Homo sapiens: one gene and its partners. The protein of the gene in region 1 binds, or shares a complex with, the protein of each later gene. Each region holds a gene or a part of one and is shown on either strand. Other genes may lie near its edges.

Region 1 (7,526 bases):
ATTTTATTAATATATATTGCCCCTTATGAGGTGAAACAGAGGGCCTCCTGAGATATACCGGTTCTCCAGATCTTTAAGGTAAAGTATATGCCCGTGTAAGTATCACCAGTATGTTCCGTGGCCTTGCCATTGGCTAGTGAGCAAAGTGTATCATGTTTACACAGTTCTACAGATTGGCCCCATCTACTTTGTTAACAAGCAGTCTTGCCTTTTCCTGTGTCTCCCTAATCTTGCTAACCTCTGATTCACCAACCACCATTACTATGCCACCTAGGATTTGCTGTCTGCCTCATTTCTTTTCTTTTCCATTTTTAGATAGGGTTTCACTCTATTGCTCAAGCTGGAGGGCAGTAGCTCCAACATGGCTCTCTGCAGCCTCAACCTCCCTGGCTCAAGCTATCCTCCTGCCTCAGCCTCCCAAGTAGCTGGCACTACATGTGCATGACACCATGCTCAGCTAATTTTTTTTTTTTTTGGTGGAGATGGGGTTTTGCCATTTTGCCCAGGCTAGCCTCAAACTCCTGGACTCAAGCAATCTTCCTACCTCAGGCTCCCATAGTGCTGAAATTACACGTGAGCCACTGGGTCTGGCCTCATCACCTTTCTTAAGCTCTGTCTTCAAATCACTTTTTTTCTGCCTCTCCATTCTTTTATTACTTATTAACCTCTGTGAGCACAGAATATGCCTCTCCATTCTTACTGCTACAAATCAGAAACGCATATCTGAACTCCTGCTGGCCTTTTTATCTTCAGTTTTTACCTCCGCTAAATATTAATGTCAGGACCAAGCGTGATGATTCACGCCTGTAATCCCAGCACTTTGGGAGGCCGACGTGGGCGGATCACCTGAGGTTGGGATTTTGAGACCAGCCTGGCCAACATGGTGAAACCCCGTCTCTACTAAAAATACAAAAATTAGCCAAACGTGGTGGTGCATGTCTGTAATCCCAGCTACTCGGGAGTCTGAGGCAGGAGAATCGCTTGAACCCGGGAGGCAGAGGTTGCAGTGAGCCTAGATCGCACCACTGCACTCCAGCCTGGGTAACAAAACGAGACTCCATCTCAAAAAAAAAAAAAAAAAATTAATGTCAGGTCATTTTCCTAAAGTGTATTTGCACTTCTTCTCAAGCACTGATTTAAGTCTTACCTGTTTTGTAAAACCTCCCAAGATTTGAACTCATATCCATCTTTCCCTTCCTTAAGCACTTAAAATGTGCACAGCTGAATCTATCCAATCATAAAAAATGGCCATGAACAAAACACCGTATTGGAATAAGCTTTGGGACTTTAAAAAAAAAAAAAAGGTTATTTATGGTATAGTCTATGTCCTTGAATAACAATGAGTACTCATTATATATCAGGCTCTTCAAGTATTACTTTTAGTTCCTCAACAATTAGATGTAGTTTTGTGTAGTTTTCCTCATTTTACAGATGGGGAAACAGGCACAGAAGGTTAAGTATGCTCAAAGTCAAACAAATAAAAATTCAGGCAGTTCATGAGTCAGTGTTCTTAATAATGATCCTAAACTGCTTCTCAATTAACAAATCACTTATATTTGATCTTTTCCATCCCTTAAGTAATGGAGTTAAATCTACCTGTCTTTATTACCCTAAATGAAAAAAGTAAGTAAAGCACTTTGTAATTTATAGTGTTAAATGAAGACTATCAATTACCTTTATTTGTAATTTGGAATATTCATTTTTTTCATGCAATAATTATTTCATTTTTATAAGTAAAGGTCTGTAACTATTCAGGAATTTCCTTGTAAGTAGAGACGCATGATCTACTTATGTCCTTTTCTGCCTAGGAGAACTCTAGTTAGATCTATTCAATATATATTACTGATTGGTTAACACCTTTGCAACTTGTAGGGAAGTAAAGCATAAACGCGTAAAAGGAAATAAAAGTTCTCATCACATAAGGTTAAAAATATTATTTTATTTTAAAAAACTGCTATTGTGATAGTTTTCCATAAACTATTCAGAGAAGCGCAAATTCAGTTTCCTAGGATTCTACTAGAAGTCTGATCCTTTAGGTTAAGGTTTTCTGCTCAAGATTTAGATTCAGAAGTAATGGAATAAAATTATCTATTACAAGCATACTTTGGTTGATACTTTATCAGTGATATAATGTCATTTAAATGAGCATTACTTTGAGAGGTTTCGACTTAAGGGGCAAGTTTCACTGTTAACTCTTAATTTTTTAGTAGTCAGATGTTTATGTGTATCAGTTTTCCCTTATTGGAGCTTTAATGTAATTCTTCTTTATGAGATGCTAAGGTTTCTACATTCATGTACTCCCAAGGGTACATGGCTAATATAGATAAATCACATATGTAATGTTTGCATCCAGATGTAATTCATTTTGTCTTAGTAAACCGACTTTTATTTATCCATAGGTTTTCTCGCTACATCTGTGATCCTTACAGACTACAGAAAATATAGCGATTTTAAGACACATGTAAAAAAGTTTCCAGCCAAAGAGATTTTGTGATGCTCCATAAACACTGTTCATCTGTTATTTATCTGGCATATTAATTTAATGACAACTACACAGGGCAATAGACTTACAAAAGCACACTCTAAGGGATGAAAAGCCATAGGGAGTATTCATTTTTTTTTTTTTTTTTTGAGATGGAGTATCGCTCTGTCGCCCAGGCTGGAATGCAGTGGCACAATCTTCGCTCACCGCAAACTTCACCTCCCAGGTTCTAGTGGTTCTCCTGCCTCTGCCTCCCTGGTATATGGGACTACAGGTGCCCGCCACCATGCTGGCTAATCTTTGTATTTTAGTAGAGAGGGGGTTTCACCACGTTGGCCAGGATGGTGTTGATCTCTTGACCTTGTGATCCACCCGCTTTGGCCTCCCAAAGTGCTGGGATTACAGATGTTAGCAACTGCACCCGGCCTCATTTTTATAAGATCACACAGAGGTTTTTTTGTTTGTTTGTTTTTGAAATGGAGTTTCGCTTTTGTCGCCCAGGCTGGAGTGGAATGGCGTGATCTCAGCTCACTGTAACCTCCGCCTCCCGGGTTGAAGCAATTCTCCTGCCTCACCCTCCAGAGTAGCTGGGGTTACAGGAACCCACCAACATGCCCAGCAATTTCTTTTTTTAACAAAACTCCTAACACCTCGTTAATCATTAATTAGTCTTTGGGTTTTGGTTCAACACCTAACATTTGCAAATCACACAATTATCTTTGTTCTTTCATTAGCGGAAGACACTTTCATTTGTTACCCTGAGAATATGAGACATTCACAATCTAATTCCTGACTACATTTGATTTCAAACAGATAGGAATAAGTTCCAGAATATAAAATATTAACTATTTGGGAGTATCTTGTGGGTATGCTCTAATTAAGAAATGCTTCCTTTTCCGAGGAAAACTGCTGACATTGCAAGAGTTATTACAAAGCCACAAATCTTAAGAAAATACATGTTTAACTGAAATTATAAAGATATTTTGCAAAAAAGGGAAATCGCTCCTGCTGGTGTTTTGTGTATAAATCTCTTTCTAACTTCAAGCTCTCTCAAGTTAGGGCAACAGTAAATGAAGTGGGAACAGTATCGCATTGGGAAATATCTGAAATGATACCTATGGGACTATCTAACGAAACTGAGGCCCAGAAGAATTGAAGTGACCTGTGCAATGACACCAATTTGTTAGCAGAGCCAAGATTAGAACCAAGTTTGGTGCCTTCCTGCATCCTTCCTGCATCGGTCCTTTCTCGGTGCTGCAGCAGCCTTTTACTTACTAATTTCACCCTGAAGAAAGGTAGACCATCCTGGCGTGGCAGAAGCGTGGACATTCGTTTTCTAAGGGATGGTCACACACCTTTGCCTATTTGCATTTAGTTTCTTTAAAAAGTAAAAACACCTCCATTTTGGAACACTTTTAGAGACAAAAGCAGAACATACGAAAGTGTATTTCACTGCTGAGTTCTTAAGAGGCGTACACCGTGTGGTTATAACGTGCGCAACTCTGTCCCGGGCAACTGAACTTATTTTTAGCGTTATTTTCGGCTTCTGCTGCAGAAAACTAGGGATTCAACTACCCGCACCTACGTTTCACACAACAGCACTCGTCTCTCTCCTTCACTCCTAATAAAAACACCTTACTTCGTTTATTCCTGCCTGCTCTACCTCGTCTCAACATTTTCTCTTGTTAACTTCCACCACACTGCCTTTTACTCGGATTGGAAACCCACTCTCCCCCAACTTCTGTCTCATACCCCCAACTTCTGTCTCATACCCCCAACTTCAGGAAGCGTCTTCCTTTTTTCCGCCTCTCGTTCGCTTTTGTCTTACGAGGCTTCCGGAACACGGCCCAGAATTACAGAGAAAACACACTGCGCACGCGCACTCTCTCGTCACCGCTGTGCGGCTTCTGTTTGGTTGGCCAGTTCGTCCCAATTTCCGACTCACAGGGCTGCGGAGCAGCAACTCTCACGATATTTGCTGCGACCCGCAGGCGCTATCCGCTGCCGGGTTCTGGCGCGCCCTTTCAGTTCTGCTTGCTGTCGGCACCGCTGCGTTACCCGGAACCGCCGGGCCGAACAGCATGACGTCCGCTTTGGAGAACTACATCAACCGTATCCTCAAGCTGGCCGCCGCGGGCGTGAGCCGGGGTCGCGGAGAGGCCGCGGTCGGGGATCGGTGGGAGGTTGGGAGGCCTGGCCTCGGCGGGATCCTGGGGGCGGGCGAGGAGATGAGGGCCCCGGAACGACCCAGAGTTCGCCGGCGGCGCCTCGAGCCTTCCCGCTGCTGCGGGCCCAGGGGTCCTTTCCATTTTGCCTGCAAAACCCAAATAAAAACCCAGTGTGATTATTCCGAACTTTTCTGTCTTAAAAAAAATGTACGCTCTTGATTCTTACTTACTATTTCCCTATGGCATAAGTGTTAAAGTTTGTGAATAAGATGAACAGTCGTCCTGGCGGCGACAACAGTTTTGCAAATCTTTGTACTTGTTTTATTCACATAATTTGCTCGTTCGAGGATAGCAAAAAGTTTAACGATGGTTCACAGACTGTTTCTGTCCCTTTACCACTTGAAGTCCCAACTTGTTGGTAGAATGAAAAAAAATGGTTGCTGTTGTAATGGATTATAGTGAGGAGCAAGTAACAACCCCATGGGAAGTCTTAAAATAGACTTTACAAGTGTTACCGTTTTAAAGTCTTAGGACAAAAACACTACGTTAAGCTCAGGTACAAACTGGGTGACAAAAATTAAATACCGAATGCTTTTAATGATGCGTTATTGGTACCCTGTGACACTGCTTATATAGTTTCTTTACTTTTGAATTACAGAAGCCTGTCCTGGAAGACAGTTTTTTAACATGCTGGAAAATCGTCCAACATCGATTAATTTAGTACTCATCCACTTTTCATTTTAGAAATAAACAGGCCTAAGAAACGAAATATCCTGCCTGAAATAATAGATTGGTAACCTTCCTAGTAGAAAAGTGTCAAAAATCCAGGATATTTTGAGATAAGATACACCGATCACATACAGAAAGAGGTTTTCTTTTTCTATTTTTTCCCTTTTTTAATCATGTAATTATCACAAAGACAAAAACAGAAGCTTTTTTTAAGTTTTTTTTTTTTTTTCTTTTTTTGAGTCGAGGGTCTCACTCTGTTGCCCAGGCTGGAGTGCAGTGGCTTGATCATGGCTCAATGCAACCTTGAACTCCTGAGCCCAAGCAATCCTCCTGCCTCTGCCTCTGCCTCCTGAGTAGCTGGGACTATAGGTCACCAGGCCAGGGTAATAGAGATGGGGGTATCGCTGTGTTGCCCAAGCTGGTCTCACCTCAAGTGATCCTCCTGCCTTGGCGTCTAAGAAACTTTTAACGTTTTTATGTAGTGAACTTAGTGGCTGTGTTGAATACTTATACCTAGTTGTCATATTTATTCTAAAAATTCAAATCATTCCCTTGCCAGAGTCTGTTTTCAATTTGCATTCCCTAAGAAACACTTTCTTTGATTCAGTTATCAGGAACTGTTGCCGTTATTACATCAGATGGGAGAATGATTGTGGTAAGTCTTTGGAATTTTCATTCTCTGCTTTCCTGTAGGTTTATTGGTTGCAAGTTTTATGTGAAACCTCTAATCTCTAATGCCTAGACAGCACATTACACCCGTAGTGCAATTTTATTATAATTCAGCTCTTTATCACTTTGCTGTCAATCCATGTTTTCCTCACTAATAAACATTGTGTGTTACCTACAAGGTTTCTCGGAGCTAGAATAATAGATTCTGCCCTCAGAGAGCTCCTAGTCTGTAGACCTTTATTAAACTTACTTTTCTTCTTCCATTTTTATTTCCTTCCCCATTCAGCACCACATGAATCAGAATTTTTTTGAAATTTTGCATATGCTTAGTAACTTTTTAATGATTTAGATACTATTAATATCTAGATAACATTTAAGGCTTGTATACAATCTTAATATTCTTTGTTTTTAGGTTGTGTGACATGTCTTCTGTAGGACACATTATGATGATTGACTCTCTATATATACACATATATATGTAAAATTGGCTTGTTCCTTGAAGTTGTTTCTCCCTTGCTAATTTATGTCATATAACTAAGATAAAACGTTCCTATAGTGATACTTGTATTTGGAATTTGATCTGAGGAATTCATCTCAAGATTTTTGGGTACTTGGTTATTTCTTCACTTACAATTCATACTTTGAATGCTTTCAAAAGAATTTTAAGGCTACTGAACTTTCTCTATTTTCTAACCTTACCTAGTTTCTTTAAATAATTTGATCCCTTATTTTTCCATTCTTCAGTTTTGCTTTTGTTCATTTTCTTTTTAAGCCTTGTGATTTTTTTTCACTGGGTCCTTAGTGACTATTATTAGTCAAAGTTCTAGCTTTGTCCTTTACTAAATTTATATCATGTGCCAGGTGCATATATGTTACATTATTTAATGTACAGTAAAAACTTATGAAGAATAAGTACCCCTGTATTCTAGATTAGGAAACAAGTTCAGAGAAGGTGACTCACTTTCTCAGAGTCACAAGGGTAGCAAGTGACAGAACCAAACTGGGATTTAAATTTGGTTTGACATCAAAGCCAAGGCCAGTTGCCTGGCTTCTTTCTTAAGGAAGCAATGATGTTTGCTTAGGCACCTCACATTGTATTTTTTCAAATATGGACAGTTTGACATATTTTAATTTCAACACTTCAGGAAGCCTATTGCTGTTAATAGATATTTGCATTTTTTTTTAATTTGGTGAAAACCTTAAGTTTAAATTTTCTTATTTTTGTTGACAGGGTAGATAATAAACTGAGAAATTATTTTTAATTTTAAAGAAGAATGAAAGTGATATAAAAAGCATCTTAAGTTCTAAAGTTCAGTAGTTCTGTATTTCTTTGACACATAATTTATTTGATGGGATAATGTGTAAAATGAAGTCAAGAAGTTATGAATGGATGTTTATGATAACAACCATTTGCTAACTAGTTCAATAAATACTCCATATTTTGTTTCTCTTCCAAGTTACAGATTTCATTCTCATTT
Region 2 (7,024 bases), on another chromosome or scaffold:
AGGGCCTGGGAGTCAGGCAGCTCCCTGTCCCGCAGCCACTCCTTCCCTTACCTGTGGGGTGGGGCGAGTGTTCTGCCTTCCCTGCATGCCTCCCTGGGTAGTGTGTGCATTTTTCTTGTGTATTTATTCAGCAAATATTTACCGAGTCCCTCTCATGTGCCTGGCCTTGTGCTTGGCCCTGGACAAAGTCCACACCCACTTTGAGTGTTCCAGTCTAGCGAGGGACACAGGTAATAAACAAGGTAATTAAAGACTGGCTGCATCCTATGATGGAAACAAACACCCATGAGGCAGAGGGTGGCCATTAAAAGGGCCTGGCCAAAGGAGGTGACGTTTCAGCAGCCTGGGGAAGGTCACCCCAGGCAGAGGCAATAGCAGAAGCAAAGGTCAGGTGGCAGGAATGGGTGTGGCGGCCAGTGTGGCAGAGCCTGTCTGCCTTGACTCTATAGCGGGCCTGAGGAGTGTTGTGAGAGTGGGTCTGCACCAACCCTATTTGGGTTTTTTGTTGTTGTTGTTGTTGTTTTTGAGATGAAGTGTCACTGTCACCCAGGCTGGAGTGCAGTGGCACAATCTCAGCTCACTGCAGCCTCTGCCTCCTGGGTTCAAGCGATTCTTCTGCCTCAGCCTCCCAAGTAGCTGGGACTACAGGTGTGCGCCACCATGCTTGGCTAATTTTTGTATTTTTAGTAGAGATGGGGTTTCACCATATTGGCCAGGCTGGTCTCGAACTCCTGACCTCGTGATCCGCCCACCTTGGCCTCCCAAAGTGCTGGGATTACAGGCATGAGCCACGGCGCCTAGCCAGTCTTTCTTTTGTTTTGTTTTTTTGTTTTTTGTTTTTTTTTGAAACAGTCTCGCTCTGTTGCCCAGGCTGGAGTGCAGTGGCGCAATCTTGGCTCACTGCAACCTCTGCCTCCTGGTTTCAAGCGATTCTCCTGCCTCAGCCTCCTGAGTAGCTGGGATTACAGTTGCCTACCACCACGCCCAGCTAATTTTTGTATTTTAGTAGAGGTGGGGTTTTGCCATGTTGGCCAGGCTGGTCTGGAACTCCTGACCTCAGGTGATCTGCCCGCCTCAGCCTCCCAAAGTGCCGAGATTACAGGCGAGAGCCTCCGTGGCCATCCCACCAGCTCTCTTTGTTTCTCAGATGTTCTTTCTGCTGCTTTTTGGATGGGACTGCAAGTGACAGGCAAGGAGGCCGTGGGTCCTCCCAGGCTGTGCTATTGGTCGCTGAGACCAGGTGGTGGCCCAAGAGGGTCTGTCACTGGCATGGAAGGTGTGTCTACAAGCTACCTGCCTCTGGGCAGCTTTGCCAGGGCCTTGCTGGATGTCCCTGGGCAGGTCACTTCTGCTGTGGGCGCTGGCGCCTCCTCTGCAGAATGAGAGGTGGGCCTTTAAGGGCTAGCCTGACCTCTGCGCCTTCCCTGGTGATCCAGGAGGAGGTCCAAGGTCCCGTTCCTGTTACGGACTAGAGAAAGAAAACAGGCTTGCTGAGGAAAACCCACGGCTTCTTCACAGTAAAGGGCGACCTGGGCATGAGACCCGTGTGCCAGTCTGTGGCTCCTGTGTTTTCTCTGTGGCTGGTGGCACCCAGTCAGATGCACACCCAGCCGCCCGCAGCCCTCCTCCCCTGCCTCTCCTAGCAGCTGCCCCGGGGCCACATGGCCCTTTCTTCCCCCTTATCTGGCTCTTCCAGGAAGCCGGTGCAGGAAGTGGGCTTGGGCCTGGCTTCCTGCTGGCACCAACCTCCCCTGGGCAGCTCTTCTCAGGAAGGGGCTGTGGGATGTAGGATTCCCTCCCCAACCCCTTCCTTTCATTGGGGAGCCACCCGGCCAGGGTTGAGGGCCATTTCCGGCCTCCACAGGGAGAGGCCTTCAAGTTCACACCACCTGGAAAAGCAGCCACACTGTGGATTAGGGTGGTGGCCAGGGCAGGACTCCCAGCAAAGGCATCTGGGGTCAGGGCCACCTGGAATTCCAGTCACCAGGACAGGGCTAGGTGAAGCCTGTGTCCCATGAGGCACTGTCTTGTCAGGGCCCCTTGGTGCTGGGGCCTTCCTCATGGCAGTACTAGAACGGGCATGTTATAGGACCCCGCACCCAGGCACAGCTCTGCGTTACCCGAGGCAGCTCCCAGCGTACGGGTTGAGTTTTCTGTTTCCAAAATGAAAGTGTTGATTTCCCCCCCAGTAATAGAAATACTACATATTTGACATAATAAAGAAATTCAGTAATGATGGAAAAAAACATCTTGAAACCAGGCGTGGTGGTGCATACCTATAATTCCAGCTACTTGGGAGCTTGAGATGGGAGGATTCCCTGAGGCCAAGAGTTCAAAACCAGCTTGGGCAATATAGTAAAAGCCTGTCACCATCAAAAAAAAAAATCTTGAAAGTTCACCTTACCTGGTGACTTCCTGTCTTTGAAAACCCAGTTCAGGGCCGGGTGCGGTGGCTCACGCCTGTAATCCCAGCACTTTGAGAGGCCAAGGCAGGCGGATCACGGGGTCAGGAGATCGAGACCATCCTGGCTAACACGGTGAAACCCTGTCTCTACTAAAAATACAAAAATAAAAATAAAAAAAAATTAGCCGGGCATGGTGGTGGGCGCCTGTAGTCCCAGCTACTCGGGAGGCTGAGGCAGGAGAATGGCATGAACCCGGGAGGCGGAGCTTGTAGTAAGCCGAGATTGCACCACTACACTCCAGCCTGGGCGACAGAGCGAGACTCCGTCTCAAAAAAAAAAAAAAAGAAAACCCAGTTCAGGCGGGGGGTGATGGCTCAATGCTGTTACCCCAGCCCTTTGGGAGGACCAGGCAAGCAGATCATTTGAGGTCAGGAGTTCAAGACCAGCCTGGCCAACATGGAGAAACCCCATCTCTACTAAAAGTACAAAAATTAGCTGGGCATGGTGGTGCACCCCTAATAATCCCAGCTATTTGGGAGGCTGAGGCGGGAGGATCACTTGAACCCGGGAGGTGGAAGTTGCAGTGAGCCAAGATCACACCACTGCACTCCAGCCTGGGTGACAGGCTTGCTTCCCAGGCTCAAGCAATCCTCCTGCCTCAGCACCCAAGTAGCTGGGACTACAGATGCGCACCACCGTGCCCAGCAAAGTTTTGTATTTTTAGAGCAAGGCTTCATCTAAAAAAATAAAAATAAAACCAGCTCAGATGTGGCCTTCTCTGATGGGATTGACCCCTGCATTGGGGCCTGGCAGTGTCAGTCTTGGGCCAGTTGGGGCTGCCCTGCAAGGCATGGTCTTGTGCTTGCTTCAGACAGACAGGACCAGGCCAGCTCTGTCTCCTCCTAGCGCCATAGTACTGGGCAAGTTCCTCGGGTTTCCAAGCTGTAGTGTCCTCAACTCCATACTCAGAGTAACCTCATCAACATGGATGCATCTCAGAGATACCAGTTTGAGCTTAAAATACAAGCATTAGGGCAGGCACGGTGGCTCATGCCTGTAATCCCAGCACTTTGGGAAGCCGAGGCGGGTGGATCACCTGAGGTCTGGAGTTTGCGACTAGCCTGGCCAACATGGTGAAACCCCGCCTTTATTAAAAATACAAAAATTTGCTGGGTGTGGTGACGCATGCCTGTTGTCCCCAGCTGCTTGGGAGGCTGAGGCAAGCTGCTTGTGAGGCTTGAACACGGGAGGTGGAGGTTGCAGTGAGCCATGATCATGCCACTGCACTCCAGCCTGGGTGACAGAGCGAGACTCCGTCTCAAAAAAAAAAAAAAAAAAAAAATTGACCAGAGTGTTCAGCACCAAGAGCAGGTGGTGGCCACCTACGGGAGTAGGGAGGGTGTGTGAGGCTTTTCTTCCTAATCTGAGAGGCAGGTGTGTGTTCCAGGGCTGGGCAGAGTGAGGAAATGGCATTTCCAGTGGGGGGTGATTGACACGCACTCCTGTGCCCCCTCAACCGCACCGCACCATCTATGAGTCATGGGTGGGACTCAAGACCAGAGCTCCCAGGCGCTGGTCAAACAGACAAATCATGTGGCTTTATTTGCCTTTCAGCTTCCCTTGTCACTGCTGAAGACGGCTCAGAATCACCCCATGGTGAGTACTCAGTGGTCTGGGAAAGCCTGTTTGAGAGGGGGCCAGCCTCAGCACAGGGGCGGTGGCTGAGCAGACGGCTTCCTGGCCTGCCTGTCCACCAGCATGGCAGTTTGCTCTCTTCTCCCTCCCCAGGAGTGTCCACACTCCTGTCATTTCTGCTGCTTGTAAGAGTAATACATACATACTTACTAAAAATTTAATGGGCCAGTTGCAGTGGCTCGCGCCTGTAATCCCAGCACTTTGGGAGGCCAAGACAGGAGGATCGCTTGAGCTCAGGAGTTCGAGATCAGCCTGGGCAAGAAGAAAAACTTAAAATTAGCCAGATGAGGTGGTGTGTGCCTATAGTCACAGCTACTCAGGAGACTGAGGCAAGAGGATCGACTGATCCCAGGAGTTTGAGGCTGCAGTGAGCTATGATCATACCACTGCGCTCCAGTCTGAGCGACAGAGTGAAACCTTGTCTCTAGAAAAAGAAAATTAATGAGGTGGAAGGATCACTTGAGCCCAGGAGTTCAAATCCAACCTGGGCAATATAGCAAGACCCTGTCACTTAAAAAAATAAAAAGAACTTCAGGTTGGGCATGGTGGCTCAGGCCTATAATTCCAGCACTTTGGGAGGCTGAGGCTAGAGGATGGCTTCAGCCCAGGAGTTCAGAGACCAGTCTAGGCAACATGGAGAAACCACGTCTCTCCATAAAATATAAAAATTAGCTGGGTGTAGTGGCGTGCACCTGTAGTTCCAGTTAGTTGGGAGCCTAAGGCAGGAGGATCACCTGAGCCTGAGGCGTTTGAGGTTGCAGGTCGCTGGGTGACAGTGAAACCCTGTCTCCAAAAAATGATAATATTGGCCGGGCGTGGTGGCTCTATGCCTGTAATCCCAGCACTTTGGGAGGCCGAGGCGGGCAGATCAGGAGATCGAGACCATCCTGGCTAACACGGTGAAACCCCGTCTCTACTAAAAATACAAAAAAATTAGCCGGGCGTGATGGCGGGCACCTGCAGTCCCAGCTACTTGGAAGGCAGAGGCAGGAGAATGGCGTGAACCCGGGAGGCGGAGCTTGCAGTGAGCTGAGATCGCGCCACTGCACTCCAGCCTGGGTGACAGAGCGAGACTCCATCTCAAAAAAAAAAGGATAATATTACATACTAACACTTCAGTTAAAGTGCACAATTTAGTGGCATTTGGTGCAGTCACAGGTTGTGTAACCACCACCTTTATCTAGGCCGGAACATTTCCGTCTCCACAAAAGGAAAGCCCATTTCCATCAGCAGTCACTTCCCAGCCCCAGTCCCTGATGAGCATGAGGCAGCTGCCGTCTCTGTGGGGTTGCCTATTCCGGATATTTCCCATGCATGCGAACGGAGACCATGAGGCCTTTCGAGCCTGGTGGTTGTCACTCAGCAACGTGTTTTTGAGGTTCATCCACCCTGTGGCCTGTGTCAGTGCCTCATTCCTTATAGCCAGACGATACTCCGTGGAGCGGATACTTACCACTTTTTTTTTTTTGAGAGGGAGTCTAGCTCTGTCGCCCAGCCTGGAGTGATCTGGGCTCACTGCAAGCTCCGCCTCCTGGTTTCACGCCATTTTCCTGCCTCAGCCTCCTGAGGAGCTGGGACTACAGGTACACGCCACCACGCCTGGCTAATTTTTTTTGTATTTTTTTTTTAGTAGAGACGGGGTTTCACTGTGTTAGCCAGGATGGTCTCGATCTCATGACCTCGTGATCCGCCCGCCTCGGCCTCCCAAAGTGCTGGGATTACAGGCTCACGCCCGGCCTACATTTTGTTTATGTGTTTGTCTGCTGATAGGCATCTGGGCTCTTTCCCCTTTTTGGCTATTGCGAACAGTGTCACTGTGAACATTCACGCACACATTTTTGTATGGTTGCCTGTGTTCATTTCTCTTGGGCAGATGCCTAAGTTGAGTCATTTAAAAATCTCAGCCCTGGTGGGAGGCCAAGGCGGGTGGATCACCTGAGGTCAGGAGTTCAAGACCAGCCTGGCCAACATGGTGAAATCCCCGTCTCTACTAAAAAATTAGCTGGGCGTGATGGCAGGCGCCTGTAATCCCAGCTACTTGGGAGGTTGAGGCAGGAGAATCACTTGAACCCGGGAGGCAGAAGTTGCAGTGAGCTGAGATCACACCATTGCACTCCAGTCTGAGCAACAACAGAGAAACTTCCATCTCAAAAGAAAATCTCAGGCTTGGACTGAGTGTGGTGGCTAATGCCTATAATCCCAGCACCCCGGGAGGCCAAGACAGGAGGATCACTTGAGCCCAGGAGTTTGGGACCAGTCTGGGCAACAGTGAGACCCCACTTCTACAAAAGGAAAAGAAATTAACCACATGTGGTAGTGTGCGCTTATAGTCTCAGCTACTAGGGAAACTGAGGTGGGAGGATGGCTTGAGCCCAGGAGGTTGAGGCTGTAGTGAGCCATGATCACGATACTGCACTCCAGCCTGGGCAACAGAGCAAGACCCTGTCTCATAAAAGACACCAAAAAATATCAGTCTTTTCCTAACAGCAGCATATCCTCAGAATGATCTGCTACTTATCTTTGTTCTCAAAACATACCAAAATAGATGAGTAATTATTGCAGTAAAAAACAGCATTTGTGGAACACTGAAGCCCAAATATCTGGTGTTGTGGGGGTGCCTGCCAGGACCAGCCCAGCTGTGCCCACCTGGCCCCCAGCCACCCTGGATCAGTGGCCACCATCACCATTGTCTCACTTATTCCTTTAAACATTTCTGTGTTTCTTAGTTTTTTGTTTTTTTAAGACCAAGTGGCACTCTGTTGCTCAGGCTGGAGTGCAGTGGTGCGATCTCAGCTCACTGCAACCTCCCCCTATCTCAACTCACTGCAACCTCCGCCTCCTGGGTTCAAACAGTTCTCCTGCCTCAGGCTCCCGAGTAGCTGGGACTACAGGCATGCACCACCATGCCCAGCTAATTTTTATGA
Region 3 (7,221 bases), on another chromosome or scaffold:
CCATTCCAAGGGCCACACACACTTGCCACTAAACCACCCTTTTTTTTCTTTTTTTTTTTTTGAGACAGAGTTTTGTTCTTGTCACCCAGGCTAGAGTGCAATGGCGCGATCTTAGCTCACTGCAACCTCCTCCCAGGTTCAAGCGATTCTCCTGCCTCAGCCTCCCGAGTAGCTGGGATTACAGGCACACACCACCATGCCCAGCTGATTTTTATATTTTTAGTAGAGACAGGGTTTCACCATATTGGTCAGGATGGTCTCGAACTCCTGACCTCAGGTGATCCACCTGCCTCGGCCTCCCAAAGTGCTGGGATTATAGGAGTGAGCCACAGCACCCGGCCTAAACCACCCTTTTCAACACAGTCCCTGTTCTCAAAGACCTCCTAATCTGATAGGGATATCAGATATCATCATTCCAACAACACTCTAAACTCCCTTTAACTCTGTCTTTATATTTAACTATCTGGCAGTATGTCTAACCTAGCCCGGGACAGTTGCAGACAACAGAACCCACTTAAGCAGAAAGGGATGTATTGCAATAACAGACTTTGGCGGAACTTCCAGGAACAACACCTAACCCACAAAATAACACCAATTACACTGCAATGTGATAAGTGCTAAAGCAGAAGCTTGGGGGCCAGGCATGGTGGCTTATGCCTATAATCGTAGCACTTTGGGAGACCAAGGCAGCAAGATCACTTGAGGCCAGGAGTTTGAGACCAGCCTGGACAACATGGCAAGACCTTATCTCTATAAAAAATACAACAATTAGCCAGGCATGGTGGCACATACCTGTTATCCCACCTACTGGAGAGGCTGAGGTGGGAGGATCACTGGAGCCTGGGAGGTCGAGGCTACAGTGAGCCATAATCATGCCACTGCAATCGGCCTGGGCAACAGAGTAAGACTGTCTCAAAACAAACAAACAAAAGTAGTAGCTAGGAAGAGAAAGAGGGTCTGGGGGAAGTAGAGAAGTTAAACAGATAACTGAATAAGCCTTTTAGGATAAACAGAAATCCTCTAGCAGAGAATACTGTTCTTTGACCTCATTAGAACCCTGATTTATTGGCCTCTATTTTCTTCCAATCTATCAGCCCTCCCCTTTTTCTTCAGTTTTCTTCCAATCCAGCTTAGATTCCATAGCCCATCATTCCAACAACACCCTAAACTCCCTTTAACTCTGTCTTTATATTTAACTCTCTGGCAGTACCTCTAACCTGGTCAGGGACAGTTGCAGACAACAGAACCCACTTAAGCAGTAAGGGATGTATTGCAATAAAAGACTTTGGCAGAACTTCCAGGAACAACACCTAACCCACAAAATAATACCACCTTTGCCACAATCCAGGAAAGTTATGGCTATCACTGCAGCAAGCCACCAAACCAGGGAGCTATTGACTGGAGAAATTTACTGCCATGACTGGCAGCAAAACTGGATGACTCACACCCTCCTTCTTTCCACATTTAACTCAGTTCCAAATTCAATTTTCACCTTAGGTGCAAGGGAGTCAAGAAAATGGTTTTTAGTTTTCCAGATTTTTCAGGAAGAGAAGACATATTAGAGGTTAGAATGTGTCTTGAGCAAGCGATGTCCTTGCCATACCCAGAAAGGTTTTCTCCATGCATGCACTAAACCGCTGGATATGCTGGAAAAAAATTTTTTTTTTCCTTGCATCCTACATTTCTCTAGTAACCTCATTCTCCCACACTCCACAGTGACTTTCAAATCTTCTACAATATTCTCAAATTTCTCAAAACTGGATCCTCAACTGGATCCTGGATAATCCCTTATCCCCATCGGTTAGCACATCCTCTCCTCCTCTTTACAATCAGATCTATGAAAAATACTGTGTAGGTTCACTACCTACATTTTCTTGTCCAAATCCTTGCCTCATATCTGGCTTTTGGCCCAATCACACCAACAAAATAACTCTTGCTAAGGTTACTGTGACCTCCATGATGATAAAAGCCAAAATATGTTTTTCAATCTTCATGTTATTTAAATTCTAGAAATTTCTATCACAAATCATTCTTTTGCTTCTGAGACATTCTTCCAGTCCTCCTTCCTTTCTTCTGTATCTCCTGTAGGTTCACCTGTTCTTCACCATTAAATGTTGGAACTAGTCAAGGTTCTGACTTAGCTGACCTTACCCACACCTATGGCTCAATTCATGTATATACAAATTATGCCCAATTTTATATTCCCAACACAAATCTCTCTTCTGAGCACAAAGCTGTATTTCAAACTGCCTCTTGGATGTCATGAATGACCCCACACAATCAATCAATCAATCAATAAAAACTGATCTCAGCTGGGAGCAGTGGCTCAGGCCTGTAATCCCAGAATTTTGGGAGGCTGAGGCAGGTGGATCACTTGAGGCCAGGAGTTGGAGACCAGCCTGGCCAATATGGTGGAACCCCATCTCCACCAAAAATACAAAAATTGGCCGGGCACAGTGGAGGCGCCTGTAATCCCAGCTACTGGGGAGGCTAAGGCAGGAGAATTGCTTGAACCTGGGAGGTGGAGGTTGCAGTGAGCCAAGGTTGCACCACCACACTCCAGCCTGGGCGACAGAGCAAGAACCTGTCTCAAAAAAAAAAAAAAAACAAAAAAAAACTGGTCTCTAATCATCTTCTAGTGTTCCCTATCCAGCTTGAGGGATTCCGTGATAGTGAGTGAATGGTACCACCATCTATTCAACTACATAAGCCAGAAACCTAGGAGTTACCTTTGATTCCTCTCTTCACTCCCTAAAATCAACCCATCACCAAGTCCCACCCATTTTACCTCCTATATACCTCTAGAATCTGTCCAATTCTCTGCAGTTCCACCCATATCTCAGTCCTCACTGACATCTCTGACCAGGATTACTGCATATCCCAAGTGGTCCACATACATCGACTAGGGCTTCCCCAACCCCCGTCTGTTCACACCACTGAGCCTGAGGGATCAAGTCCCCTCCTCCACCACACCCCACTGGGGGAAGACGGCTCAGTGGTATCTCATCCGTTTTAAAATAAAAGCTACAAATTCCTGCAAGGTCTGACCGCTATCACGTACAGCTTCATCTTGTACCATACTCCCTTCATTCTCTTTGTACCAGCCACACTGGCTCTTTGTGCTTTTAGTCATTTTCCTCCCAAGTGCCTCAGGGCTCTGAACAAGTAGTTCTCTATGGAAGGTTCTGCCTTCACTTCTTCACCTAATTAATTACAACACTTCCTGCAGCTACCAGCGCAGGCATCTTTTCCTCTGAAAAACCTTCCTGCTTATTTCAGGCACTCATAGCATCAGGCAGCAGTAGGAGGCATTTCCATGTATTAGTGAGGTCATTGTTTAACGTTTTCCCCACCAGAGTTAAACGCCCTGAGAGTAGGGACCGTGCCCGGTTCACAACATACCCCCAACGCGCTGCTAAATGAATATCAGCAGGACGACTGAGGCAATGACCACGTTCATGGGCATGAGTCTCAAATTTCTCAACAAGACTGTGCTCTGGAGAAGGAGTCGGACATTTCCTTCATCACTGTCTCTCTCAGGGGGGCATACAGTAGGCCCTGATCAAAAACTGCAAAATCAGTGGCAGAAACAAGTCAGCCTCCTCGGCCAAATGGGGCACCGGAGGAGGCTGGGACGCAGGCCTTTCTCCCTGGGAATGCCCGGCACAGGACTGGCCACGATGGGCGCTCTTGAAGAAGGGAGCCGCAGGGGCTGGGTCTTGCCGCCAGAGACCCCAAGGCTCCGCTCCTGCCCCGAAAGGGAGCCCAGGCTACTACTTACCACAGCTGGGGACTCGGGGCCCGCCTCCCACCCCTTGCTGTCAGCACCCTCAGCTGAGAAGGGCAGGTTCAGACTGCACAACCGAGGCGTCGCCTCCAGACTCAGGCAGCCACCCACCCCGTTCTTCCTCATACGTACTAGGCGTCAGCTCCAGGTCCCCGAGTCGCTGCGCTGAACTAAACGCCGACCCCAGTCAGCCAGCGCGTTTCCACCCACAAGACCCAGCGCGCCTAGGGCGGTCGCCAGCTCCGTCCACCAATCCTGGTATCGCACTCTCATGACGTCAGAAAGATATGCCCAATAACAAGAGACTATCCGAGGGCGGTGCAAATGGAAATATTGAAAGCCGATTGGTTCTTCCAAGCTGGAAGTTGTGGAGGAAGGACTAATTTGGAACCAATTGCGTGGCGCCTGAGAGCGGCAGCGCGGTCAGTGGCGGCGCTGAAGAGACCGGTTGCCGCCATGATAGAACAGCAGAAGCGTAAGGGCCCAGAGTTGCCGCTGGTTCCAGTCAAGCGGCAGCGGCATGAGTTGCTGTTGGGAGCGGGGTCTGGCCCAGGAGCCGGGCAGCAGCAGGCGACGCCGGGAGCCTTGCTGCAAGCGGTAAGTGAAGAAGCAGGCGGCCTTTGGCCCTCAGCTCATCTTCCTCCCCTCAGAGCGCTGTATCTGGTGATCCCTGACCCTTTCCCGCATTGCGGGGGCAGAACGAGAGTTTCTACGCAGAGTTAAAGCACATAAACACTGTAAAAGCTCCCCATAGCCTGCGAATGCTGCGTACGTGTTCCCCCGTTTGGCGCCCGTTTTCAGCCTCTCGACTGCCCTGAGATAGCATTAGAATTAGAGTTGAGGACCTTGGGCTCAAAACCCTGACCCGGGTTTAAGCATCCTGACTCTAACATGGATCTGGCATAGAACAAAAATTCCGAAGAGTGTGTAGAATGAATGAATGAGGGAGGGAAGAAAAAAGGGAAATGATTTGTGTTGGCTCGTTTTGGGACTTTGGGCAAGTTGCTTTTCCCTTTATTTCTCTGCACTAGTATTATTAACAACTAAATAGCAGCTAACATTCATTGACTCTTGTACTAAAGTGTTTCGTATATGAAATTTCCATTGATCTTGGTAGCAGCCTGTTAGGAACGTTATTAACCCATTTTGCAGATGGAAAAACAGACTTACCAAGTACGTGATAGAAGCAGATTTCGAACTGAGAAACCATGCTCCTAACTACATTTTTTGTAAGATAGAAATAGTGATCACACTTCTAATGTCCTGTTTAGGCTCAGACGAGGAAATACGAGTGTCCTCACATCTCCTCAATAAATCCTGCTGGCACCGTCCTCAAAATAGGTCTAGAATTGCTACTTCTACCATCTCCATCATTGCCTCATGGCCTAAGCCATTATTATCTCATCTGGCATTTTTGTAGTGGGACCCTAACTGGTCTTCCACTTTCTACCTTTGTATCAGCACCTGTTACCAAGCCAATAACCAAAGGAATCCTTCTAAACATCAGATCACATTACACTCTGCAGAAAACTTTCTGGTGGCTTTGTACTTCATCCAGAGTAAAAACCAAAATTCTTGTAATTATTTGCCCTCTTTCCCTTTACCTCTCTGACCAATTTCTTATTGCTCACCTGGCTTCAGTTACTCTCTCTTCCAAGCCTCTGCTTCAGGACCTTTGCATTTGCTGTCCTCTCTGTGGGATTGCTCTTCACAAATGTTTACATGGTTTACTATTCAGCTCCTGCGAATATTTGCCCAAATGTAATTTTTTCAGTGAGGATTTTCCTGACCACCCTATTTTAAATTGCAGTACCACATACTGTGGAACCCACATTGCTTCTCTCTCTCTCTTTTTTTGTTTTTTTGTTTTTAGACAATCTCTCTGTGTTGACCACTGGCTCAGTACAGCCTCCACCACCTGGGCTCAAGTGATCCTCCTGCCTCAGCCTCCTGAGTAGCTGGGACCACAGACACACACCACCACATCTAACTAATTGTATTTTTTTGTAGAGACAGGATTTCACTCCTGAGCTCAAGCAATCCGCACACCTTGGCCTCCCAAAATGCTGAGATTACAGGCATGAGCCACCATCCCCATCCCTTCTTTTGCTCTATAGCACATGACACCACATATATAGTTTGCTTGTTTTCTCTCACCTTCCCTTCTCCCTTCCCCCTTTCCCACTGGAACAGCGAGCTCCATTGTTTATTTTGTTCATTGCTGTTTGCCCAGTGCCTAGCACGTAACTTCTTTTTTTTTTTTTTAAGATGGAATTTTGCTCTTGTCACCCAGGCTGGAGTGGAGTGGCGCAATCTCGGTGCACCGCAACCTCCGCCACCCGGGTTCAAGCGATTCTCCTGCCTCAGCCTCCTGAGTGGCTGGAATTACAGGCGCCCGCCACCATGCCTGGCTAATTTTTGTATATTTTTAGTAGAGACGGAGTTTCACCATGTTGGTCAGGCTGGTCTCAAACTTTTGACCTCAAGTGATCCGCCCACCTCAGCCTCCCAAAGTGCTGGGATTACAGGTGTGAGCCACCGCGCCCAGCCTGCACATAACATTTTTTAAAACTAAATGAATCTGGCCGGGCTTGGTGGTGGGTGCCTGTAATCCCAGCCACTCGGGAGGCTGATGCAGGAGAATCGCTTGAACCCAGGAGGCGGAGTTTGCGATGAGACGAGATCACGCCATTGTACTCCAGCCTGGGCAACAGAGCAAGACTCCTTCCCCAAAAAATAAATAAATAAATAAATAAATATGAAAATGCTGGGAAGTACTGAAGAGATTTGGGGATTATGGGTAGTATACTTCTCCCATTTGACAAGTGAGCATATCAGCCCATGTTTAGATGAATTGCCCAAGTGTCATCTTGGTGTCCAAGACCATAATCAAAACTACTTCACCCATGCTGAGGATCCGTTTGCTATGAAAAAATAAGAAATAAAAATAGGCCAGGTGCAGTGGCTCATGCCTATAATCCCAGCACTCTGGGAGGCCAAGGCAGGCAGATCACATGAGGCCAGGAGTTTGAGACCAGCCTGGCCAACATGGTGAAACCCCATCTCTACTAAAAATACAAAAATTAGCCGGGCGTGGTTGTGCATGCCTGTAATCTTGGCTGCTCGGGAGGCTGAGGCACCAGATCCCTTGAACCCAGAAAGCATAGGTTGCAGTGAGCCGAGATCACACCACTGCACTCCAGCCTGGGTGACAGAGCAAAACTCTGTCTCAAAACACACAAAAAAAATTAAAAATAAAACAAAACTATTTCACCCAGTACTCCATACCAAGCAGAGTTGTTGGGAAAGTCAGTTCCATCATTTGTTAAATGAGCCAGGCCAAATGTGGTGGCTCATTCCTATAATCTTAGTGCTTTGGGAGGCCAAGGAGGGAGGCCAGGATTTTGAGACCAGCCTAGGCAACGTAGCAAGAC
Region 4 (7,024 bases), on another chromosome or scaffold:
AGGTTGCAGTGAGCCAAGATCTTGCCACTGCACTCCAGCCTGGGCAGCAGAACCAGATCCTGTCTCTGGAAAAAAGATAGCAGCAGTCACCCCTAGGTGTTGGGATTGGAGGTGATCTTATTTTCTTTTTATTTTTCTGACTTTTCTAAATCTCTGATAAACTTGCAATTAAAGAAAAAATAACAGAAAATGTGTTATATGCAGTATTATTGGAGGTACTATTAATATTTGCAAGTGTTCAGACCTAATTGCGGGGAAATGATGGCAGGATTCTACAGGTATATTTTAGAGCAGTTGTGAGATGCATGTAACTATTTGTAAAGGTTCATACAGATGATTACTAGATCAGCATAAATAATATGTCTGTGGACGTTTTCTGCAGGACTTTGATAACTTGTTACCTGAGTGAAATTTAATTCCTGGGCGATTCTGGGAGATGGTAAAGTGAGGCGGAAGGAGCCAGCGGCCAATTCCTGAACTATTCTGGGAAACGGTGGCGTGAGGCGGAAGGAGCCGGTGGCCAAGGTCCCAGTAGTGTCACATGATCTTCCCGCGTGTTTGCTGCACTGGGAAAAAATGTTGAAGAATTAGTTTGAAAATTGCCCCGTTGGCCAGGAGTGATGGCTCACTCCTATAATCCCAGCACTTTGGGAGGCTGAGGTGGGAGGATAGCTTGAGCCTGGGAGGTCGAGGCTGCAGTGAGCTGATTGCACCATTGCACTCTAGGATGACAGAGTGAGACCCTGTCTCAAAAAAACAAAACAAAAATTGCCCTGATCCACACAAATTCTTGGTTTTGTTTTTATAAATGTGCTTCTATAAAATGAAAGCCAAAGTGTTCTGTTATTTCAGTTTTTTTTTTTAATCTCCTTTTAGGTTAAAAATTTTGCAGTTATTTATCTTGTGGATATTACAGAAGTGCCTGACTTCAACAAAATGTATGAGTTATACGATCCATGTACTGTCATGTTTTTCTTCAGGTACGTTATCTTAAAGTTGTTACTGAAATTGAATATTGTCAGTTTGGAAGCTTAATGTAATCAAGATCTCTTTAGATTATTTTATTTTGAAGGAAGTTGGTTGTACAGTCATGTCCCAAAATCGTTTGTATCACCAGGCAATCAGTGTGAATCTTTGAAATAATTTTCAAAGTAACAATTCTAGTTTTAGCATTTACTCAGTAACAAATTACCCTTTTGAAATAACTTTGCGGGGAAACCTAGGTGAAGTGTAATTCAATGAAAGATGTTGTTACTGACATTTTAGATACCTGGAACTATAATCTGTTCATCAAAAATGTTGTAAAATCACAAATTTAGGCCGGGCACAGTGGCTCAAAGCGCCTGTAATCCCAGCACTTTGGGAGGCCGAGGTGGGTGGATCACAAGGTCAGGAGTTCGAGACCAGCTGGGCTAAGATGGTGAAACCGAGTCTCTACTAAAAATACAAAATTAGCCGGGCGTGGTGGTGCATACCTGTAATCCCAGCTACTGGGAGGCTGAGGCAGGAGAATCACTTGTACCCAGGAGGTGGAGGTTGCAGTTAGCCGAGATCATGCCATTGCACTCCAGCCTAGGCAACAAGAGCAAAACTCCGTCTCAAAAAAAAAAATCAAAAACCTAATTTATTAAATATGTTATCATCAACTTCGGTGTCCTTTTTTATATCCAAGAGGAACACCTGAACTACTTTGCTTATAAATACAAGATTATTTTATCAGCTCAAAAATTTCATTATGGAAATTTAATGGGGAAAGAAATCACCATCTGATGCTGTTTTTACTTGTTTAGTTACCATAGAGGTTGGTGAATTAGCTACATGAGCATTAGACCATTCTCCAAAAGTGGAGCCTCCTACTCGGTAAGGAAGGTCAGGTGGGTTGTATAGGGTATGCGTTAGTTTTGTATTCTTTGTAACAAATTAGCACGCATTGAGCAGCTTAAATCACCCCGCTTTTCTGAGCTCACAGTTCTGTAAGTCAGACATCCAGGCAGGGCCCGCTGGATTCCTGCTCAGGGTCTCACAAGGTCTGAACCATGGGCTGGGTGCTTATCTGGAGTGTTTGAGGGGCTTGTTTGGGTTGTGGGCCGAGTCTGGCTCTTCGTGGTGGTGGGTCTGAGATCTGCTTCCTTGCTGCTGTTACCTGAGGCCACTCTGCTGCCAGAGACCCAGTTACCCTCAAAGCCAGCACTGGCATGCCGGCACATTGAGAACTTTTCACACAGGTTCTCTGACCTGAAAAGTTCTGCCTGAGAAAATGCTCTGGTTTTAGAGGACTGTGATAAGATTAGACTTGCCCAAATAATCCAGGATAGTGACCTTGTTTTATTTATTTATTGAGATGGAGTCTCACTCTCACCCAGGGTGGAGTGCAGTGGCACCATCACAGCAAGCTTGAACTCCTGGCTTCGAGCCATCCTCCCGCCTCAGGCTGCCAAAGCGTGAGGCACTGCCGTGGTTCTGGGCGTCGGGATACGCTCCCCTGGACACGCCCTTGGCTTCCTAGGTGCCTCCTGTTAGGTTGAGAAGATCTGTGAGGTGCACCCTGCATTTCTTGTGAACTTTTCATCTTTCCTAGGTTTCAGCAAAGGTTGCGTGGCTGACCCTCATCCTTTTCTCTACTGTGTGTTCAGCAGCCATTTCTGAATTTCAGCCCCTTTGGCCATCCGGAGAGGCTAAAGAATTTATTCCTTTTGTTAACAGTTCTTACACTAATTTGCCTCTTTCCTCTCTTGAAGGCAGCACCTCCGAGACTTTGCTTGGAAGTTTCCGCAGCTAAATATCCCGAGTGTGTTGCTTTTGAGCTCTGACTTCCTATAACTGCGGACCCCGTGTCCCTGTTCCTCGGCCACTCTGTAACGGGGGTCCCCTTTTCTCCGTTTCCCAGTAACACACTCCTCACTTCCTTCCAAGCCCACACCAGGTGTTCCTGAAGTCCATATTTCTGTTAACAGCCTGTTCGAGGCAATAGAGGCCTTTTCTATTTTGCCCCTCAGAATTCTTCAGGTGAGAACAGGGAGGGCCGTCTTAGGTCTCTGCCCCCCACAGCGTGCAGTGGAGGCCAGCCTGGGGCTGGAGATGCTGTGAGGGGCAAGGAGGCTGCAGGCAACAGCCTTGGGTGGCGGGAGCAGCCTACTTAGTGTAGTTTGATATTTTTAGGACTGATGCTGTACTCAGAAAAGGAGATGAAACTTCCTTCTGCTGTTTCTGTGATTTAGAATTTTAAGACAAACGGTACTTTAGTTAACTTATGCACCAAACATATATCTTGAGCCCCCACCAGGTTTGTGGTCTAGTGGTGGAGCCTAATGTCAGATAAGACAGGATTCCCACTCTCATAGGACGTTGTCTGATAGAAACAGCTGAGTAAATTAGCAGGGGGTTCTGAAGAAGTGAAAGGAGGCAGATGTTTATGAGATATAAATACCGAAGAAGTACACCCAGGTCAGATAGGGCTGCAGGGAGGGTGCTACGGGCAGCCCCCAGTCATTGTAGAAGGAGCTTGGTGCATGCTGCATGTAGGGCCTGCCTGCAGCATGGAGAATGAGAGGGCGGCCAGAGGTGGGCTCCAGACCCTGATCAGATTTGCCTCTCCTGAACCAGAGACTTCACGGGGAATACTTTCTACGGAATAGTAGGTGGAAGCCAAATGCATGATCTTGTGGAAGTGAACGTTAAAAAACAGTCTTTAGGTGGGGTATGCCTGCAGCCCAGCCACTCTGCAGGCCGGGGTGGGACTGGAGCTAGGGGTTTGAGTCCGGCCTTAGCAACATAGCTCGCATCTCTAAGAAAAATAATCAGGCCGGCACAGTGGCTCACGTTTGTAATCCCAGCACTTTGGGAGGCCGAGGTGGGAGGATCACTTGAGGCCATGAGTTTGAGACCAGCCTGGCCAACATGGGGACACCCCATCTTTACAAAAAACTAGAAATTTATCTGGGTGTGGTGGCTCGTGCCTGTGGTCCCAGTTACTTAGAGGGCTGAGGTGGGAGGATCATTTGGGCCAGGAGGTTGATTTTGCCACTATGCCCTAGCCTAGATGACAGTGAGACCCCATCTCAAAAAGAAACTTCAACAAACCAGGATAAATTTATGCCAGTACAACAAAGGGTTAATATCCTTATCTTGTAAAGTGCACATGAGTATTCATGAGGAAAAGAACTAGTCTCTTGAAAGATAAGTAAAGAATTATCTACTTCCCTAACCATAAACATGCAAAATGTCATCTTCATTTCATAGTTGAAGGGCTTTTAATACAATTTATGTCATTGCTCATAAGAGCACTGTGAAAAACTTACACATTGCTTTTATCAGGTAAATTAGTACAAATTAGATGGGGGTCTCATTTTGTTATCCATGTTGATCTCGGACTCCGGGCCTCAAGTGATCCTCCTGCCTCAGCCTCCCATAGAGTTGGGATTACAGGCATGAGCCACTGCGCCTGCCCTCCTTTGACCTTTTAATTTCCCCTTAGAATAACTGTCCTAAATAAATACAGAAAAATGCAGGAAAGAGCATGGTGGACAATGCATTGCATCTTTAAAAACACATTTAGCTGCTTCCTGTATTCTCCTGCATCATGGCATACACTCTCGATTTTATGCGTTCTTCAGTGATGTTAACAAGAGCTTGTCACAGTGGGAAAAATACGGCATTGTTTTCAAGGAATTCTTTTTTAAAGAGACTTCTATGAGAATGGATGCCCTTGTTTCTCGTTGCAGGAACAAGCACATCATGATTGACTTGGGGACTGGCAACAACAACAAGATTAACTGGGCCATGGAGGACAAGCAGGAGATGGTGGACATCATCGAGACGGTGTACCGCGGGGCCCGCAAAGGCCGCGGCCTGGTGGTGTCCCCCAAGGACTACTCCACCAAGTACCGCTACTGAGGCGCCCTCAGTCTGCGCGGATAAATGTCGTGGAGCCCTTTTTGTATGGAAACGTTTTAAGCTATTTAAAGCCTTTGGAAAATACAGGAAGCTCCAGGGCTGGAGCACCTCTGAGATGGAATTGATAACATGGTCTTAACTCACCGAAATAAACAAGCACGTGGTGAGAGGAGCAGGCCTACTTGTTTGTTCTCAGGAAACTTAATGAATAGATTACTGATTTTCCTAGTCAAAGTTAATTCTTACCCTTGGAGTAAAACGAAGGTGTTTATCCTGTGAGCCTGTGCGTTTTGCATACTGGGTTGGTTTGCTGGGGCTGCGGTGACAGCATATGCCGCGAGCTGGGCTTTAACAGAGATGTGTGCTCTCACAGCTTTGCAGGCGGGGGTCTGAGATCAGGGTGTCGCGGGTGGGGGGTCACTGCTGAGGCCGTGAGGGGAATCTGCTCAGGCCTGTCCCTGGCTTCTGGGGGCTGCTGGTGGTATTTTCAGTTCCTTGGTGTGTGGATACTTCGCCCCATCTCTGCCTTCACCTGTGTCCTCCCTGTGTGGGTGCTGGTGTCCAAAATTTCCCCTTTTCGTAGTGACACCAGCTGTGTTGGATTGGGGCCCACCCTGCTCCAGCATGGCCTAATCTTAACTAATTACATTTGCAAGGATCTTATGTCCACAAAAGTCACAGTCTGAGGTGCTGGGGGTTAGGACTTCAATATATAAATTTTGCGGTTACACAATTCAATCCATGACAGAATCCAAAGGTTTACTCTGGTTATAAAAACAGTACAATAAAATATTGTTTATAGCCTTCCCTGTAAGGAATAGGAGAGCTATTTTTTATTCTTCCCAAGATTGTATTTGATGTAAACATATTTTCTGTAGAAGCCATGGCCCTTCAGTTCATATAGTTAGAAAATTTCCTTATTGGCCAGGCACGGTGGCTCACACCTGTAATCCCAGCACTTTGGGAGGCCGAGGTGGGCAGATCACGAAGTCAGGTGTTCGAGACCAGCCTGGCCAACATGGTGAAATCCCGTCTCTACTAAAAATACAAAAATTAGCTGGGCATGGTGGCGCGTGCCTGTAATCCCAGCTACTTGGAAGGCTGAGGCAGGAGAATTGCTTGAACCCGGGAGGTGGAGGTTTCAGTGAGCCGAGATCACACCACTGCACTCCAGCCTGGGCAACAGAGCAAGACTCCGTCTCAAAAAAAGAAAAGAAAATGTCCTTATTACAGTCTCAGGTTTCTCTTGCCCTCTGTCATCCTAGCAGTGTGGATGGTTGGTTGGGATCTTCGTGTCCCGTCTCAGCACACTCGAGCTCTGAAGTGAAAGTGAGGAAGGGCAGGGATGGGGGCACTTGAGCACACCGTGGGCCCTCTGACCTCAGACCCAGGCTCTGCCCCACCAAGTGACCTTGGGCAGGGTACCTTCTCTGAGCTTTGTTTCCTCCTTGGTAAAGGCGGATAATAGTGTCTGCCCTGCACACAGATGTGGACGCAGAAGCACGTGGTGCCTGCCGGGCACAGGAGTGGTGCACAGGGCTCGCTGCTGTCGGGAGATTGATTGCTGTTGTGGAAACGGGAGGGTACTTACAGAATGAAGCACATTTTTTACATACAGTACAAATGAGTGTGTGCTTTTTAAATGGATTTAAAATTCAAATGCAAATCTGCAGTTTAATCTCCCAAGTGCTGATTTTTCTATGTATAAAGTAGGAGAGTGCAACAGCGTATCGGAATGAGGGGCTAGGGAGAACGTGTATGTGACCTCGAGTACCTGGCATGTAACAGACACTCAGTATTACACTCCTGCTATTTCTCCAGAGCAGGTGAAACAGACGGCCAGGAAGCACACGAAGAGACACTCAGCATCACTGCTTGTTAAGGAAGGTGCAAATCAAAACCACAGTGAGACGCCACTTCACACCTACAAGTTCGGCTAGATACAAAAAGATCGCAACAAGCGTTTGCAAGGATGTGGAGAAATTGGAGCCCTCACACACTGCTGGTGGCAAAGTGGTAACACAGGCAGGCAGGTCGTCAAAAAGTTAAACATGGGCCGGGTGCAGGTGTCTCAAGCCTGTAATCCCAGCACTTTGGAAGGCTGAGACAGGCAGATTGCTTGAGCCCAGGA

What was found.
Region 2: LSM8 (region 1) and LSM4 share a complex: the UniProt entries of both Homo sapiens proteins name them as parts of the precatalytic spliceosome.
Region 3: LSM8 (region 1) and SNRNP40 share a complex: the UniProt entries of both Homo sapiens proteins name them as parts of the U4/U6-U5 tri-snRNP complex.
Region 4: LSM8 (region 1) and TXNL4A share a complex: the UniProt entries of both Homo sapiens proteins name them as parts of the precatalytic spliceosome.

The regions. Positions count from the first base shown.
Region 1 is NC_000007.14:118,179,661-118,187,186, forward strand, and holds the start of LSM8 (LSM8 homolog, U6 small nuclear RNA associated), read left to right. Parts: upstream 1-4,503; 5' UTR 4,504-4,563; coding exon 4,564-4,594; intron 4,595-5,993; coding exon 5,994-6,034; intron 6,035-7,526. UniProt on the Homo sapiens protein: Plays a role in pre-mRNA splicing as component of the U4/U6-U5 tri-snRNP complex that is involved in spliceosome assembly, and as component of the precatalytic spliceosome (spliceosome B complex).
Region 2 is NC_000019.10:18,313,061-18,320,084, reverse strand, and holds part of LSM4 (U6 snRNA-associated Sm-like protein LSm4), read left to right. Parts: exon of another isoform or gene 1-568; intron 569-2,404; exon of another isoform or gene 2,405-4,019; coding exon 4,020-4,061; exon of another isoform or gene 4,062-4,416; intron 4,417-7,024. UniProt on the Homo sapiens protein: Plays a role in pre-mRNA splicing as component of the U4/U6-U5 tri-snRNP complex that is involved in spliceosome assembly, and as component of the precatalytic spliceosome (spliceosome B complex).
Region 3 is NC_000001.11:31,293,774-31,300,994, reverse strand, and holds the start of SNRNP40 (U5 small nuclear ribonucleoprotein 40 kDa protein), read left to right. Parts: upstream 1-4,206; 5' UTR 4,207-4,243; coding exon 4,244-4,384; intron 4,385-7,221. Other genes in the region: ZCCHC17 (zinc finger CCHC domain-containing protein 17), read right to left, coding at 3,782-3,913. UniProt on the Homo sapiens protein: Required for pre-mRNA splicing as component of the activated spliceosome. Component of the U5 small nuclear ribonucleoprotein (snRNP) complex and the U4/U6-U5 tri-snRNP complex, building blocks of the spliceosome.
Region 4 is NC_000018.10:79,971,554-79,978,577, reverse strand, and holds part of TXNL4A (thioredoxin-like protein 4A), read left to right. Parts: intron 1-876; coding exon 877-980; intron 981-1,790; exon of another isoform or gene 1,791-1,860; intron 1,861-4,721; coding exon 4,722-4,893; 3' UTR 4,894-7,024. UniProt on the Homo sapiens protein: Plays a role in pre-mRNA splicing as component of the U5 snRNP and U4/U6-U5 tri-snRNP complexes that are involved in spliceosome assembly, and as component of the precatalytic spliceosome (spliceosome B complex).